Linked DNA regions of Homo sapiens: region 2 is linked to region 1. A link means that fine-mapping ties the variant in region 1 to the expression of a gene that starts in the linked region. Tissue or cell type: whole blood. Region 1 holds a variant in brackets; the other region holds the start of a gene. All regions are shown on one strand. Distances are between the middles of the regions.

Region 1 (11,396 bases):
ACATTCTTGTGAAAATAAAACAAGTTAATATAATACATATGAGATGCCTAGAACTGTGCCTGGCACATAGTAAACACTCAATAAGTAGTAATTGTTATTTTTTATCCTATTTTGAGTGAGGATGGACTTTTTCCAACATTTAAGAGTTATCTGTATTGTCTTTTCTGTTACTTGTCTTTTCATATCTTTTGCCCTTTTTTTTTTTTTTTTTTTTTTTTTTTTTTTTTTTTGAGACAGAGTTTTGCTCGTCACCGAGGCTGGAGTGCAGTGGCATGAACTTGGCTCACTGCAACTTCTGCCTCCCAGATTCAAGCGATTCTCCTGCCTCAGCCTCCTGAATAGCTGGGATTACAGGCGCCTGCCACCACACTTGGCTCATTTTTTGTATTTTTGGTAGAGACGGGGTTTCGCCATGTTGGGCAGGCTGGTCTCAAACTCCTGACCTCAGGTGATCCACCCACCTCAGCCTCCCAAAGTGCTGCGATTACAGGCATGAGCCACCATGCCCAGCTGAGATTTAAATATTTCACAAACAAGTAAAAATAATTGGTCGGGTGAGGTGGCTCATGCCTGTAATCCCAGCACTTTGGGAGGCAGAGGTGGGCGGATCACCTGAGGTCAGGAGTTCAAGACCGGCTTAGTCAACTTGGCGCAACCCCCGTCTCTACTAAAAATACAAAAATTAGCCGGTCGCAGTGGTGGTGCCTGTAATCCCAGCTGCTCGGGAGGCTGAGGCAGGAGAATCCCTTGAGCCTGGGAGGTGGAGGTTGCAGTGAGCCGAGATCAAGCCATTGCACTCCAGCCTGGACAGAGTGAGACTCGGTCTCAAAAAAATAAAAATAAAAAAAACAAGTAAAAATAATTGATCCATTCTTAGTTTTAGCCACTATCACATCAATGTATCACCTTAAAAACTTGTTGAAAGGTGACATCTTTAGAGTTTTTCTTCCCTGTTCCCTCCTCAGCTATACTTCTCTGTCTCAGCTCATATTTTTCCTTCTCTTACAGAAACCTTCCCAAACTACTTTTTCTAAAGTCTCCCCCTACTTCAGTCAATACTTCATAATGTTTATCATGCTTCGAAATTATTCTATTTATTGACTTATTTATTATCTGTCTCCCTGCACTTAATTGTATGGTCTTTCAGGGCAGCATATTTGTCAGCCATAGTCATTGCTGTATTCCCAACATCTAGAAAAATCTCTGGCTCAGAGAAAGCAAGCAGTGTTTATCCAATTAATGATACTGTTTAAAGTTAAACTGAAATTGGAACCCTCTTGGAGTGCAGGTAGAAATACAAAATGGTACAGCCACTTTGGAAAACAGGCTGGCAGTTCCTCAAAAGTTAAACATAGTTATCTATGACCTAGCAATCCCATTCCAAGGTATATACCAAAGAAAAATGAAAATATATGTCTACACAAAAACTTATACACAAATATTCATAGCAGCATTATTCAAAATAGCCAAAAGTTTTAGACCACCTAAAACTTTTTAGCTTCAAGTACTCTGCAAGCCTCCTTTGAACGAAATCATATTACAAAAAGTTCCTAGAAAGTAAATTTAGTCTAAATAGGGAAAAACACAGAATTTGAATACATTTCAGTTTGAATCCACCTCTGTCACTTATTAGCCATACAACATTAGGTTAATCCTCAAGTTTTACTAATCTTCAAGTTTTCTAATCTATAAAATTAGGATATAAAATTTACGGTGGTATTATAAGGATTCAGCAATAAAACAATTTTTTTTTTTTTGAGACAGCGTCTCCCTCTGTGGCCCAGGCTGGAGTGCAGTGGCATGGTGCAATCAAGGCTCACTGCAACCTCCACATCCCAGGCTCAGGTGATCCTCCTGCCTCAGCCTCCCAAGTAGCTGGGACTACAGGTGTGCACCACCACGCCCAGCTAATTTTTCTATTTTTAGTAGAGATGGGTTTCTCATGTTGCCCAGGCTGGTCTCAAACTCCTGAGCTGAGGCAATCTACCTCTCTCGTCCTCCCAAAGTGCTGGGATTACAGGCATGAGTCACCACGCCTGGCCAATTTTTTTCATTACCAGTACATTCTTAGCATATTGCAGGAACTCAGTAAACACAAATTTCTTCTCCCTATTTGCTCCCCTTCCTAATTGTACTTCAATAATTAGCACCCAAGAATAAAGCTCAAAGAAATTTTCCTTAAACCAAGTTGCATGCTACAGCGGTTAAGATTACACAGATGCTGGAACTTCCCGAAATGACATAACAATGTAGGTACTTTTAAGTCTCACCAAACTCCCTCACAAAACCAGACAGAGCCATCAGGAAATAATAAACCACAGATGACATTTCCTACAAAAGCAGGTGACAAGGAATCCCTCCTAAACCCTGGAATTATAGATAGGTGTGGCCAAAAACACCCAACAGCAGCAAGACCTGTGATCAGCAGCTATATGAAGCAGTGGTGGTAAAGAGAAATACAAAAGGGTCCTAAAAGCCATGAAACCCAGAACTCACCAACAAATAAATACCTGCAAAGGGAAAAAGATCAATACTATCATATCTGAGAATCTAAGCAAGTGAATCTGAGGACAGTCACTTGCCATTCAGGCTCTAAGTCATGAGGGAAAACAATCCTAAGAATAGAAAAACTAATTAAATGACATAACTGTCTATCTCTTCAGTGAAATATAATTTGAGGACCCTCTCCCAAAAAACTGCACAGAAAGTTTTAACTTCAGTCAGTAGTCAATTGTTATCTGAAAACCATTAGGCTGGGCGCAGGGGCTCACGCCTGTAATCCCAGCACTTTGGGAGGCCGAGGCGGGTGGATCACGAGGTAAGGAGATCGAGACCATCCTGGCTAAAATGGTGAAACCCCATCTCTACTAAAAGTTCAAAAAATTAGACAGGCGTGGTGGCGGGCGCCTGTAGTCCCAGCTACTCGGGAGGCTGAGGCAGGAGAATGGCATGAACCCGGGAGGCAGAGCTTGCAGTCAGCCGAGATCGCGCCACTGCACTCCAGCCTGGGCAACAGAGCGAGACTCCGTCTCAAAAAAAAAAAGAAAGAAAAGAAAACCAGTATATATTTATAACAATATATAGAATAAATCAAGTAATTATCTTAATTTTGTTAAGAATAAATTTTTTGTCATAAAAGATATATAAATATAAAATCTAAGAACTTAAGTGAAACCCTGTAATCTTACATTTGAGTTAGAATTATCAATGTGAGCTCACTTATCTCCTCTCTTTTCCTGAAAGCAAACAACCCAGTAGCAATAAGTACCCTTAAGGCTCAAATTTTGGCCTTTGTATATCACTCCTCAATAAAAAGAACCATGGCTCTTTGGAGAAATGGCAGATTCTACATCTGGTGGAGGAAATGTACAAGATGAGCCTGGCACGTTTTGGTGGGCCAGAAAGTAAGAAGCTAAAAAAGCTAAAAATGGAGTCTTATCAGAAGGACACAGGAGCCAACTTGAAGGGGTTCCCACTGGACAAATGTGGTACAATTTCAGCATCAAAAAGTATAATGTCTGAAACTGATTAAAACACACTACATATACAAAAAGCCAACACTTCATAATAACTACTAAAAAAAATCAAAAGTTATACACCACTGGAGGATACTAAGGCACTACCTCATTACTCTGGAAATTGATAATTAAAGGGAAAGAATTAAATATTTTATACTGCCTTTCCAGTATGAATTGTATTTCTGGGTAACCAAATAGCCCTAGTGAATGGATAAAGCTCTTTTAAAACACTCTGGCTAATCGAGATCGCACCACTCAGCCTGGGCAACAGAGCGAGACTCCATCTCAAAAAAAAAAAAACATTCTGGCTAATAAATACAGAAAGAATAACAAGTGGACCATTTTCAAGGCCTAAGAAATTCAGTAATCCAGGCACTGGGTCATCCATAGATGGTAAAACCATTAGGTGAAAGAAGGGGAACTTTACAATGAAGAAATCAGGCTGGCACTACCTAATCCACTGATCAATCAGTCTTAGCATTGCAAAAAGTAAGATGACTAAACGTTATGGCTGATGTGATGCATGATGAATCTAATCAAGCTTTTAGATCTAATTCTAGTCTAGAAGAAATTCAGCAAATAGAAGCGTAAATTAAATACTGCCACAAGGAAATATCAGCCAAATCTAGAATTGGGGCATTCTACAGGAAAAACATTCTGATTTTTTCAGCAAGTCAATGGTATATGAAAAAGGACAGGTGGGGGGCAGGAGGAAGGAATGTGAATCTGCACGGAGATACAAAACAAGTATAACATATTAGTGGTTAAAGCTGACTGGTGGTTATACAGGAGTTCATTGTACCCTCTACTTTTGTGAATTTGGGGGAAATTTTATAATAAAAAGTAAGACATACACACCAATGAACAACAACAA[C/A]AAAAAAACCACAATGACTTAGAATCAAACAGCTAGAGTTTGAATCGCAGCTCTACACTTACTGTGAATGTGGACAAGTTACTTAGCTTCTTTAAACATGGTTCTCCTTCTATAAAATGGGAAAAATATTACCTCCATTTATTAAGTTTGAATGAGATAATAGACAAAATGTGTCTAGTACATAAAGAGCCCAGTAAATGTTAACCACTGTCATCATTAGTATTAATGTTATTATTATTATTACTATTATAGAGGATATGATAGCAAAGGCTTCTGTATAGTTCTTTATGTAAGTAGCCAATTTGGGGGGTTCAAAACTCTTATTTCATTTTCAAAAACACATATGATACACAAATATAAAACACCTATAAATAAGTACTTTTCTATTACTCAGCTTTTTGAAAATTAATAAACACAAACATTACTATCACCAATGTAACATTAAAGAAGTTTGTTTGTTTGAAATTTTATGCTATACTTCAGTTAAATTTAACTGACACAGTGCTATCAATATTGTATCTATAATTCTTCATAGTTCTATTGTTAAATTTACATTTTCCTTAACATGAACAATAAAATAGATTATATAACTAATAGCAAATCTAAGAAACATGCAAGGCAATATTTTTCAACTAAAAAATAAAAATATTCTTATTTCTAAACAAAATCAGTTGAATGCTCATATTACGTATGCTTTAGATAGCAAAAAATAACGCTTTTGTAAATAAAAAATTATACTGAACTCTACAGTGCTGAGACAACTGATAAATTTTTCCTTTCACTTTTAATCAAGCTTCCTGTTGTAAGAGCTCAGCAGACAGTGACGCGAGACACTGCCTCCCAACTTCAGTTCACCTTTGCAGTTCCACAAGGGACACCATGTCAAGATTGTTCAGCTTTTTTGATGAGTGCTGCGTGGGTAACTAATGTGTAAATGCAGATACGTATAGAAAGCAGTTTTGACAGTGATGTATTGCAACTGGTTCCAGATGTCGGTAAGGGATGCTTGGCCAGGCATCTAGAGCTCCACTGCCACGGAGCAGCACCAGGACCAAACCAGTCTTGAAAAGACCATGGCACTCTAACTCTTCAATTAGAATCTTCTTAAAACAATTATTTTGCTTCTCTTCTTTCAGAAAAACACTAAAATATTACTGCTTTGTTGCTCATTTTTTTTAATTTAAGGAAAGAGCTGACATAACAAGCCTAATAGTTTGGCTTTCAAAGGAAACTTCAAAGTGAATGGAGGAAATATTAAAAATGAAGCACATACTCATCTCCTATAATGAGTTTTTTAACTAAATTGCACCAAAACTTACGTATGTACAAAAGTTTAAAGCAACCCCTGACTAGCAAATTAAATGTTGAGATTACTCACCTAATATTAGAATTCTTAAGAATATCATCATAAATATGATACATATAATTATAAACCAAATCAGCAAGCTTATTTTCTCTTGCTGTCCAGAAACGTGACAAGTGTATATTAGCTAAAGAAAATGTACCTCGGTTGCATTTGACTTTAAAAATTAAATAATGAATCTTGTAATGATGTAGTTTGAGAATAAAATTCTAGAAATGGAAGACTGACAAGCAGCATGTGAATAAATGAATTTCTGGGCCACTAGCTAATGAAATACAGAGAGATGTATACAGAAATTCCAAAGTGAAAATATGTTATTACAATCATGCAACGAATCGTCTTTAACATTTAAAATTGATAAAGTTGCACTTTCTACATGAAAAATGTTGTAGCATGGCTCCAACACAAGCATTTGGTCTGATGGGAGTTTTTTCAAACAACCTGTCTGTCTCCCTCTTCTTTCAATACCAGACTCCCAGCTCCAATCAAAAAACCTCTCAGGGGATCACCTACAGCTACATTCTCGCCATGTGGTTTTGATATAAGGCATTTTCTCATTGATCAAGGGAGCTGCAGAAGCATGTGTTCTGTTTATCCTAGAACAAAGAAGGCGACTTACATTACTGATGTTCAGAATCAAATCAAAGGTTTTGAAATACTTTTAATAGGAATAAAGGCAAACAAATCTGTCAAACGACGTTTAGACTCAACGTTCCTTTTGATTTTCTAACAAATTGAATAAACTGAACATTCTAAACATATTACCAAACTTTTAATCTGTGAGAAGACCTTGTGGTCAATAACTTCCTATCATAAGTAAATTGTTTAACTATAGCTCAAAGTTACTATGTTTGGTCTGATATGACATGATATGCTAATTGAGGGTAGAAAGTAGTTTAAAAAACTGACCAATCTTATTTTTTCCAGATGGATCATCAAATGTTTTTCTAATCTTGCATTTTCTTAAATGACCAACTGGTAAAATTGTATTACCAGTTCTAATTGGCTTAGAATACAGAATGTTTCAAGATAGCAGAAGAGCTGTATTCATTCCCATCTCCCTTCTTATAGGGCTCTGTTTTGATAAATCATTATTGTGACTTGGTTTTTGTTCTATTCCTAATAAATTATGTTTAACAAATAAAAATATACTTTAATATAGCATTTCTATATAAACCATTTGTTGCTGTAAACTATGGAAAATTTGTCTAGGCAGTACATATATCTCAGTATCTCTGAGTATATATATCTCAGATCTGATAGGTCAAAAGCAAAATTATTACCCAATGAAAATGTGATGAAAATGTATTTAACTGAATGACTTCTGTGTTTATCTTGTTGGTTTACTAATAATTCAAAGTAAATCCTCTGGACAGCAAACTAGTACTCCTAAAAATACAAAATACACATCATTATATCCAGCAAAAGTCCAAACCTAAGGACTACTAATATCTGTATCCAGCAAATAAGGACACAGAAGACTAAGGTCCTAGATGAATTTAGTTTCTGATCCTTCCAAAATGCGTAGTTCCAGAACAAACCTCTGTATCAGTCTTATTACTGGTAGCAATATAAATTGGTACAACCACTTTGGAAAGCAATTTGGCAACATCAGATAAAGTTGGATATACACATACTCTATAAACCCAACAACTCTATTCCTAGTTATATACCTCAGAGGAATTCTTGCATATGGACAAAAATATGTGTACAAGCATGTTTATAATACCAAAATTTCAGATGAAATGTAAGCATCCATCAGTAGTGAAATGAATGTGAAGTTCATCTGCACGGTAGAATACTACAAAGCAGGTAAAACTAATAAAATCAATTCACGGATATCAAAATCAATGCAGTACATGTTGAAAACTGGTGAGCAAAAAATCAAGCTACAAAAAGATGTACAGTGTGTATATACGACACATAGGTATTACATATGTGTATATATACACATTATATTTGTCAATACTAAAAATACTAACATTATTTGTAAATACACGTATGTGTAGTAAAAGCATTTTTCACATGAGAAGAATATGTACCAACCATAAGATAAATAGGTACTAATTTGGGGTGGGGAAGTTAGTGAGCTGAACGGATGGGGAAACTTCAAACATATGTAAATGGATATTTTTTAAAAATAAATGTCTAAAGCAGAGATGGCAAAATGTTAACATTTATTAAACTTAACAGGAAGAAATAAAAGGCTATGTGTTTGAAATATTTCATAAGCAAAAATCAAAATGCAAAAAGTCCATATACCCTACATGGGTCTTTACTTCAGAATTACCACTAATAATTCATTCAAATACATTCATTGATATACTGCATAATTTTATTGGGTTAAAAGTTATGTCCCAATTTCACGTTCTCATTTATATGTGGGAGCCAAAAAAGTTGATCACACAGAGGTAGAGAATAGAGTGACAGACACCACAGACTGGGAGGGGTGTGGGTGGGAGGTGTGGATAAAGAGGGATTGGTTAATGGGTACAAACATACAGTTAGATTAAAAGTATAATTTCTAATGTTTGATAGCAGGGTAGAGTGACTACAGTTAGCAAGAATGTGTGGTATATTTCAAAGTAGCTAGAAGAAAGAACTTGAAATGTTACCAAACACAGAGAAATAATAAATACTTAAGGTGATGGATACCTTAAATACTCTGACTTGATCATTACACATTCTATGCATGCAACAAAATATCACATGTACACCATAAATATAGAAAATATTATGTGTCAATTAAAAAATATGTCCATAATTAAGGGTCAGAGCAATCCACTCTTCTGAATAAAGTCATCACACAATAAGTTGAACCATCTAAATACTTAGTACTGACATTACCTTTATTATATTTTTCAAATATTTAATATATCTTATGCATATATTTTCAAAGAAAAAAAGTGTGTGTCATCACCCAATAAGCTGAACTGTCTAAATACTTAGTAGTGACATTACCATATTATGTTTATGAAATATATCTTATGTATTCATTAGATATATTTTCAAAGGAAAAAATCCCATAATCACCAATGACCCTTCATTAATTTGTGAATATTCCAGACAAGCTAGAGTCGACAAGACTTATATTATCTGATTTTCAATTCTGTTTGAACTTCACATAAAAACATTTTGAAGAGAAAGGAAGGTTATTACTATATCATTTGTGACAAATAATCAAGATATGAGAATAGTAAATAAATTATTTGAATTTAAAGTTAGGAAGCACTTCTTTTTCAAAGAATCCTATATGTAAAATAATTGAGCCATGAAAAATGTTAAAACAGGTAAAAATCATGCCTCAAAAGAACCTGGTAAGATTGTGGTAAATAAAGGAATTTACTAGGCGAGAATCTCTATTCACTACAGGCAATTTTAGCTGTTTTCTCCTGGAATTAAATGTTCTATCCTAACTTCTGGAACTAGTTAAATATTAACGTTATTGCCTTTCTCAAAGATAATGGTAGAATTTAACTGGTTGAAAACTGCCACCCACAGCTAACATTTATAAAGTATCTCCCAATGCAAAATTAAACAGACTTCCTTCCAGGACATTCTAGGCAAGTTCCCAAATAAGATTCCTAAACTAAACAAAGCTACTACATTAAACTTGGCGATATCACAATCATGAATTGATCCTCTAAATGCCAAAATTGAGAGTAAAAAAGAAAAATGGACACTTGTTAGCAATACAGGATAGCAGAAGTACACAGTGATGCTTACTGATGAAATGAGGATACTTTCTAAATCAGTGGTTTTCAAACTGTGGCCCAGGTACCCGTGGGGTCACTGAGGTACCCTCAGGGCTCTGCAAGGTCAAAACTGTTTTCATAATTCATTAAGATGTCACATTTTCTGTTTTAACTCTAATTTGTTCATGAGTATACAATGAAGTTGACAACAGGCTACGTGAAGCATGGCATCACAACAGAATGCAGAAGGAAATATGAGAAAACAGCTGTTGAAGCCAGACATTAAAGAATTTGTTAAAAAAAAAAAAAAGTAAAACAATATCAATCATCTAATTTTTTATTTTGGAAATATAAGTTGTTTTTTATTTTAAAATGATACTTATGCTAACGTGTTATTGTTATTTTAAAATAAACTAATAAAATTTTTAAATTTCTAATACAGTAAATACTAATAAATATAACCCACATAAGCCAAAGCTTGCTAGGTTCTCAATAATTGTTTTTTTTTGCGGGGGACAGAGTCTCACTTTGTTGCCCAGTCTGGAGTGCAGTAGCACAATCTCAGCTCACTGCAACCTCCACCTCCCAGGTTCAAGCTATCCTCCCACCTCAGCCTCCTGAATAGCTAGGAAAATAGGTGCATGCCACCACGCCCAGCCAATTATTGTATTTCTTGTAGAGATAAGGTTTCGCCATGTTATCCAGGCTGGTCTCGAACTCCTGAGCTCAAGTGATCCACTGCCTCAGCCTCCCAAAGTGCTGAGATTTCAGGCGTGAGCCACTATGCCTGGCAATTCTCAATTATTTTTAATTTTAAATGTGGTATGGAAAGAGATCCTGAAAACAAAAAGTCCGAGAATCAGTGGCCTAAATCATAGAGTTGATACAAGGATTAAATGAACTAATGCATGTAAAGCACTTTTCACAACGCATGGCAAACAGTCAACGTTCAGTCAATGGTAGCTATCGTTATTGTTACATAACAACAGCTGCGGCTACAGATAGCAATGCTGAGATCAGCCATTTCTGGAGACTTTGTTGTCCCCCACTGTCTAGTAAGCAATGAGTATTTAAAAAAAAAAAAAAGCCAACTGATTCATCAAATGTAATTCATCATATAGATTCTAATTTAAATTCTAATACAATCAATAAGAACCTGTTAGTCTGAAAGACTGTATCTTTCTAGACCCTGTTAACTTCCTTATAAACTAGGAAGGCCTAGGACTAGACTTACAATATACCTTGGAGACTAGAGTTATCTTGTCCTTTGAGACACCTGGAAAACAGCAATGAGAAGCCTAAGTGTCCTGTGCACAACAAATTAATTAAATATGCATTCTCATAATAAAGAAAGGTATACTTTCCTTTGAAATACTGGATCAATAAGGCATCATGGAATAACGGAACTGTGGACAGGCCCTTGAGCATGCTTCTGGTTAAGATTCTTCATTCCAGGCATATCTAGCACACACCCAAGACAGATCAACAGGTACAGAGACTCACAAACGGACCAGTCATTTTTCACTCTAGTGGTTACGTAGCCCCTCTACAAATCAAACCACAATCTTTCTTACTTTCACTTTCAGGACACTTCCTTATGTTTCATCCTTTATTGATAAAGCTAAAAATAATAATAGTAGTTGTATACAGAGGTCAAACACCTGGCATCAAGCTCATAAAAATCCTTTAACCCTTTAGCCTACATTTTTTTTTTTTTTTTGAGACAAAGTCTTGCTCTGTCACCCAGGCTGGAGTGCAGTGGCACGATCTCAGCTCACTGCGACCTCTGACTCCCAGGTTCAAGCAATTCTCCTGCCTCAGCCTCCTGAGTGGCTGGGACTACAGGTGCGGGCCACCATGCCTGGCTAATTTTTGCATTTTTGGTAGAGATGGGGTTTCACCATGTTGGCCAAGCTGGTCTCGAACTCCTGACCTCAAGTCATTCA
Region 2 (7,836 bases), 80 kb after region 1:
CTGTTTAATCACTTAATATTTCCAATATAAGCAGACCTAATGCTTAAAATTGATATGAAACTTAAAACATTAAAGAACCATTAAAATTTGCTTCAAAATAATTTTGGAATGGTGGGAATTACAGAGAAAACACGACTGGCCAAGTATTGCTAATTGCTGAAGATGGGCACTGAGTTCATGGGAGGTTCAAGAGTCTCTGCTCTCTGCATGTTATGTTTCAAAGGTGTCCACAATAAAAAGTTGTTAAAATCTTGAAAATAAGTTCATTAAAACAAAATGTGTTTCATGAAAACACAAAAAGGAATCATGTATGGAACAGTGCATTTGTTTTTAAAACTTGAAACAAAAGATGATAATTATATTGGAAATAGTGCAAGAGCAACTTAAAAGCATATGCAAAATATATAATAACATTTAGACTAATATATAACAATTTTCACCTTTCTTGCTAAATTTTCACTTGAAAAAATTGATTTTTACATATGTAGAATTAAAAGAATCACACAGCACTGTACAAAGAAAAATGTAACAGATTTTTATATTGAAACCTTAAAAAGAGAAGCACACCAAAAAAAGACTCCAAAGAGTCTCTAAACCTGTGGGTTCACAATTAAATAGAGAGGTGTCGAATGACAGTACTGCCTTGTCTCTTTGAAAGCTAGTCACACTTCTAGCAATAAAGATAAAAGGTTTAATCTCACATCATATACTAAATGCACATAAAACCTCACTTGTAAACTATACTCTTGATCTAGTTTTAATATCTAAAATTCTTATGACTCTTTCTAGGGAGGGTTCCTTTAAAAGTAAGGCATTTTTACTAGTCATTTTCTTCTCCTTAAACATAAAAAATACTTCAACCAGCCCAACCAACCAAGCAGGCCTTTCTCTTCCCCTGCGGACACCTCCTGCAGTAGAGAAGTTCATTAAGTTTTATGATCTTCCCAAGTCAGTCCTACTTATAAGCCTCACAAAGGCTACAAATCTGGCAAACCATCATGTATGCCATTAGACATTACTAGTAAATGAACGCTATTTAGGGTTTGTGGTGGCAATAAATCAGAGTTTGGTTGGCAGCCATCAACATGGAGTATTTTAACCTATTATTTGAAAAGGAAAAGGTTGTGTTTATTTTTTTTCATGCATAACATTTTTCACAATAATGTGATTCATATTATCTACTAAAATGTGGGATTTCATTTAAAAAATAAATATTTTTTTCTTGAAAAAGAACTATTTCCTTCACTTAAACTCGCACAATTAAGGGCTTTGGAAAGAAGACAAGATTTTTCAGGATGAAATATTTCACAAAGGAAAGCACTTCAACAATTAAGATTAAGATGACCAAAAAGAGGTGGGGGCATACACCAAAAGAGGTATGCAGGTGAGCAGACCTTGTGGCATCAGGGATATTTAATAAGAGACAGATGATAAAATATGGCTTTAAAAATCAGGAGAAAAATCTTAACATATCAACAATAATCTCACTGGTTACTTGGTTTAAAATAAACAACTATTTTTATTTTAAAGCCTACAACTTTTTGGGTGCTCTCAAAATGCACAAATATCACAATTCAACAATGAGAGACATTTCTGCCCAAAAATAATGGTATGATCAATTTTACGAAAGAATATATTCTCAAGAAAAAGCAGCATCTTATAGTAGAAGTATACTTTCCTTACCTCTCAACAAGAAAATAATATAATTGTAGTAGATTACCCATTTATCTGTCAGAAGGGAAAAATACCTTTTCATATATGGTAGAGGGGGAAACAGATGTTTTCTAAACTAAATCCCCCATGTGCATAAGAACTGGCAGTGTTCACTGCCTGATCAGAAACCTCAAAATCCACTGGCAGAGCTACAAATAAACAGATTTTTTTTAAAATGATTTTGTTTTGTTTTAGAAGAAAAGCACAACTGAAATGACATTATCCACTGAAATGACAGTTCACCCTCAACCCCCTTCATTAAGCAGAATAGAGTCATCAACATAATGTTTCTGGTTTCTATTCATAAATGACTAGGTAAACTTTCTCTAAATTACAAAGAATTAATTTTTAGGTATTATTAGATTAAATAAAATGATTTTTAAAAAATATTTATGCAATATACATATATTCTACAATGTTTCTTTTATAAGTTCATGTTTCTAAAGCATGACCGACTATGGAAGCAGGAGTGGGGGGGCTTGGAATTTGCAGCCCCGCTTTCTTTGCTTTGGTAACACTAATGTCTACACAGCTGTTTTATTTCGAATTGAGGATTCTGAGTCCCTGTCTCATTCTAAGACTAGTTTTGGAGAGTGAGGTGAAGCTATGGGTAGTAGGGGAGAATGGAAAGAAGAGAAAGAGCTTCACCCCCATCAATCACTCAGTACTTAAATCCCATCCCTCTCGAGCTTAGAGAGGCTAGCAGGAAGATGCCTCTACCCAGACAGCCGCCTTTACTCTTTGTCGGCTGTTGGCTTTTTACAAAAGAGATAACGTGCAAATGTGGATCCACTGGCCAAAGCACAAAAAGAGAATCTAATTTACAAGTTATCACTGAAAGCCCCAGAAACAATTTTAAAACACAAAAATTTCTTTTGTCAGCTGCCTCTTGGTTTTTAAATAGCAATAGCCCTACCAAAGCTCTCTCTGCCAGTAATCCCAGACTTTGAAAAGATTTGTTTCTTTTTCGTAACTCACCTTTGACATGTGGTTGACTATACTTTCCTTTCAGAATGGTGTAACTAAGTCCTGTGCAAATAAGCAACTAAAGGACTTATGCTTCCTAATTGAATTCTGCCTGCTGCTAAATGTCTCAACATGAAAAGCAGTTTGCTGGGTTTAGTTCTCAAGCTAGCTAGGCCAAAACTTTAAAAAGGCAAAAATAAATAAATAAATACAAATAATGAGAAGGGGATGAGAAGCGATAAGTATCCATCCCCTCTCCCTAGTAATATAAGGCTGTATAAAGTCGAATCAATCTTAATATTCACAACATAGTCAATACCCCAGTGCTTGGCTGTCAGCAGAAACTGAAGTGGAGCCCTGATAGCAGGAAAACCCTTGGACACTAAGCATCAGAATTTACTGAGAATTGCATACTTTTAAGCTTCTAAACTAAGAATCTTCAAGACTGAATGCTAGATGTCTTATTTTACAGTCAGATAAAAATTATCTACTGCTTTAAATCAAAACGCTTTCTAAAGGTAGCTAAAAATCAACACAAAATAAAAGTTAGTAATTCAAGAAAGGATCACTGAGCATTAAGAAACCAGCCATAATATGTGAATGAAAACCAGGAAAAGTACTCTTTGGCCTCCCTTATTATTTGCTGCTTATTATGGTTTAGCATATATATTTAATAGACAGCAATAACTCATCATCTTTTCTTGATTACTTTTAGGATCAGAATAGTATTGCAAAGCGAAAAACCTGTTTCAAAGAAGGCTGACTCGCCTATCAACCTAACAATTATTTGCACTGTGCTATTTGTACACTCAATTTAAACACAATCACATGTAACCTTCTAAATAGCCTCCCTTGGATAGTGCTATATCCTGGACTTCAACTTTTTCTCCTTTGCCTCAACTTTCAAAATGGCAACTTTAAAATACCATACATCCAACACACACCAAAAAAAAAAAAAAAAAGAAAGAAAAGAACAGGAAAAAAATAAACAGTAGAGCTTGTTTAATGTACTTGTTTGCCACATACAGGGAAGATAATGCCAAATACAAACTAAAACATCCAAATCTCTGCTTCAGTTTGAGCAGTTACCTCACGTCAAGACTGAAAGACCTTCAATTAATAAAGTCTGACAAGAAAGTTAAACTGAAACGAATTGCCAAAAATTTGCCAAATATGTACCTGTAGTTTTCATTCCAGCACTTCTGCAAAACCTATCTTCTTATATATTCCCTGACTTGGACACTTCAAAATTGTTTAACCTGCATCTGTAGACCTTTTTATACTTTATATATTAAGCACAGTTACAAGTGTAATGACTTCAGAATACAAAATAATACAAGTATTAACAGATGTAATACATCGTATGTGTCTACACATCATTACCCTTCCTCGATTCTCTAAAGTAGCCTTCCCACCTAAAACACTAATTCAAGCATGCTACTGGGGTCTGTTCAATTGCATCTATTCTTCTATCCGTGCAGCTGAAGCTTAAGACTGTCTAAGTAAAACAAAGTTCGGGCGATGCTTCTCCCGGGGACTCGGTCCTGGCATCCAGTCTCCCGTTGCTCCTTTTAAAAACTGACACACAAACAAGGCGAAAGGAGAGGGAAGAGGGCGGCTGGCGCTCCGGGCCCCCTCCCCGCCTGCAGCCAGGGGCGGCCGCCGAGGGACGGCGATCCAGCCCGGTCCGCACCTACACTTCATTTTACACCAGGAGCAGAACTGAGAAATTGACTCCAGATTTATTGCAGTTTTTTCTCAAGATCAGGACGTGGGAAGGAGAGAATGATCAAAGATGGCGGTGCCCAAAAGCAGCAGCTCTCAACTGGAGAGTCGAAGGAGTAGCTCCGACCCCCACCTCGGGGGTCTCCAGGCCCACTGCGGGGCGCAGCGTCTTACCTGTTTTCTCTTTGATCTCACACAGGACGCTGAAGAGCGCTGGTTTCATTCTGTGACAGTTCAGGGCATGTTTCCTAAAAAACAAATAACGAAACACAAAGGTATTAGCATCACCTATGGAATAATATGGCGCCTTCCTTTAAGTTAGACCCAAGATTTAATTCCAGCCCCCCATTCTGGAAGGCCCTTTTGAACCGTGGGAAGTCAACAAAAACTCCAGTTGACTAGTTCCCGACAGCCAGCAAGCCCCGGCGGCGAAAGCTGCAGCCGGAACAAGGCGGACCCATCTGCCCGGCAGGCAGCAGCCTCGGCCACTGCAGACGCGACGCGAACCCGCGCGGGGAGCCTCGCCCCGGGGGCAGGCGAAGGCGACCCGGGGGAGGGGACGGGTGCGGAGGGGCTCCCGCGTCCGCTCCTGTGCAGAGGAGGCCGGCCGACTGCGGCCAGCGGGAGGGTGACAGCTCGGCAAAGTTTGCAAGGCGGCCCTCCCTCTCCGAGAACTTGGCCGTCCGCACCCGGACCCGCCAGGGAACCGCCCATCGCCCCGCGCCGGGCCCGGGTGGCCGCCCGCATCGCGAGGTCGTCCCGCGGCCGCGGGAGCCGGCGCCGGGACTCCCCGCCGGAGGAGAAAGTTACACTTCCCGGCGGCGCGGCCCGCACGGGGTCGGGGCGGGAGGTTTAAATCCCTGGGAGGGGGCCGGGCTGCGAGGGGCAGGACGGGGGAAAGGACGCCACGGAATCCGCGCCGCACCGAGTCCGTCCCGAGCCCCCCAGAGCAACTTTGCCGACTCCCGCCCGCTTCGGGGGGCGCGGGCAAGTCCCCCCGAGGCCGGGGCGGGCGGCCGGCTTTCGGAGAAAGTTCCCCGCCGGGGGCTGCGGCCCTAGCCCCGGGCGCCACCCCGGGCCTCGACTCGGCCGCGGGCCCGGCTCCCGCACACACACAAAAGATGCTTAATGAGACGACACCAACTTTGCTTGCGCCTCGTCCAAGCTCTGGTCGGTGATGGTCATGATCTGGTGGAGGATGTCGCCGATGTCCTGCTTCCTGCCGTCGCCGTCCGCCCCTTCGTGGCCGTGCGGGGGAGGCGGCAGGGCCATGCCCCCCTGCACCGAGTGGCCAGCCAGGTTCACCCCGGCCAGAGTCTGCAGCATCCTGGATTGATCGTCCATCCCGCCGCGCGCGGGCGGGAGCGGGCGGCGGCTGAGGCGAAGGCTGAGGCGGCGGCGGCGGCGGCGGCGACGAGGGAGGAGAAGAAAGAGGGGGAGGGGGAGGGGGAGGCGGCCGCGCGCTCCCCGCCCGCGCGGGGAGGGGGCGGCCCGGCCGGCAGGGCCCGCGGCTGAGGCGATGAGGACGGGCGCCCGGCTCCGGCTTCCGCCGCCGCCGAGGCTGAGGAGAAGCGGCGGGCGGAAGCGCCGGGCTCCGCGGCGGTGGCGGAGGCGGAGGCGGCGGCGCCCGCTGCCCTCACGCGGCCGCCGCGCCGCCTCCTCGCCGCCGCGCGCCCCGCCGGGCGGCCCCGCGCAACTTGCTCCTCAGCGCCCGCCGAGTTGCCGGGACGCCCGCCGCCCCCCGCGCCAGCCTGCGCACTGCCCTCCTCGGCCGCCGCCGCCGCCTCGGCCAGGCGGGATCCGAGCCCCGGCGGCCCCGGGGGAGGCAGCGGCGGCGGCGGCGGGCGGCGGCGGAGGAGGAGGCCTGCGGGCGGGCCGCGGGGAGCGAGGGGGGGCGGAGGAGGAAAGTTTGGGAGCGGGCGGGCAGAGGCGGCGGGGGCGCTGAGCCCGGAGGAGGGCCCCGGCGGGCCGCGCGCCGGGCGGACAGCCGATGGATAGGGCGGGAGAAGTCGCCGCCGCCGCCGCCGGAGCCGCGCACCCAGCCAGCAGCCGCCGCGGACCGGGCTGGAAGGCCGCTGGGCCGAGGGATTGACAGGCTGCCAGTGCCACTCACTCACTGCGGCCCCGCGCCGGGGGGAGGGACGGGGGCTGGCAAGGGCGGGGGAGCGCTCCTCAGACCCCGCCCCCGGGGCGGTGCGCGCGCTCATTGGGCTCTGCGCCTCCCGCCGCCGCCGCCGGCACCGCCCCCGGGGCCCGGCCCGTTCCCTCTGGCCTCTGATACTCCGCGCTCCGGAGTGTGCCGCCGGATCCTCGCTCCAACCTCGTCGCGTCCTAGCCCCCCGGGATAGACCGGGCCGGCCCACAAACGGTGTGCCCGCACCCCGACTCCTGCTCCATGCTTTTGGCAGTCATGGGAGCGGGGGGTTGTGTATGGGACAGTGGGCAACTCGCTGCAAAGCCAACCGTGTGCTCCCCCGCCGCGCCCGTGAGCTTCACGCCTCGGACAGCTCCTGGTGCACTTTCCCGCTCTTCCTGTCAGGAGGTGGTGCCCTCTGGGTACCAGGCCGCTCGTCCCGGGCCAATCGCAAAGCGCTTAGAGCCGAATGGGGCGGGACAGAGGCAAGAAAGGGTCGTCCCAATTGGAGCGTTCGAAAGGTTCTGGGCAGAGGCGGGGAAGCGGCGAGTGGGGGCCTCGCCCCGCCTGCGGTCGCCATGGTAACCGAGAGGGCGCAGCTCAGCGTTGGCGCCAGCACCGGGGTCTTGTGCTGTCCCTCAATGGGTGACCAGTTAAGGTGGGAACCTGTGGTCTCACATACTTGAAGTCTGAGCTGAGTGGACCTGACTGCCATAGACTTTCCATTGAAAGGGGAAATGTGTCAGAGAGAAGCGAGTCTGGGAGGAGGGAAAGTGCCTTCAGTCCAGGACTAATTTCAAGGTTTACAACACTTTACACACTCTGCAACTCCTGATAATCCAGGGACTACTCCTTTGGCAGCGTTTGCTATTCGATGCCTCCAGATGTACTGAAGCTGCAAAAACGAGCTCTTCATTACAAAGATACGTTTGTTTAGGAAGAGACTGGATTTCACTTGTCAACTTACCCCATCACCACGAGTCATTTAATGTTGGTAACGCCAGCCACGATTTTTCGTATCTATAACACCCCTTCTTCCATTGAATTCTACCTACAAATAACTGAAGGCTCACATTATTTTGGAATATGGACCTCCGCCTCTTGTGGAGACTTGAGATTGCTCTTAAGCTGATTTCCCAAACAGGGGCTGCAATGTGTGTTCCCGATTTTAGATTCATTGAGCTCACCCTAGATGAGTCCTTTGGTTCGGTGGTTCGGAAAAGTCTCTTTGTTCCTTCTCCAAACTCAGTAAGCTGTCTTACCTGAAACCAAAAATAGGGGTATGAGGATATGAAAAA

What was found. PIP is the estimated chance that this variant, and not a neighbour inherited with it, causes the effect.
Region 2: PBX3 starts here. The variant in region 1 is fine-mapped to the expression of PBX3 in whole blood (TOPMed, PIP above 0.99).

The regions. Positions count from the first base shown.
Region 1 is chr9:125,823,850-125,835,245 of GRCh38, reverse strand. All of the region lies in intron 2 of PBX3 (PBX homeobox 3), which reads right to left. Among named protein-coding and RNA genes, the nearest start is that of PBX3, 82 kb to the right of the region's middle. The variant C/A (reference allele first, on the strand shown) is at 4,393.
Region 2 is chr9:125,745,366-125,753,201 of GRCh38, reverse strand. It overlaps PBX3 (PBX homeobox 3), which reads right to left and starts at 5,829. Exons shown (of 9, transcript NM_006195.6): 1 at 5,549-5,829; 2 at 4,579-4,652. The coding sequence starts at 5,748. It overlaps PBX3-DT (PBX3 divergent transcript), which reads left to right and starts at 7,273. Exons shown (of 2, transcript NR_122032.1): 1 at 7,273-7,786. RefSeq lists silencers at 4,855-5,194, 5,465-5,994, 6,005-6,054, 6,305-6,734.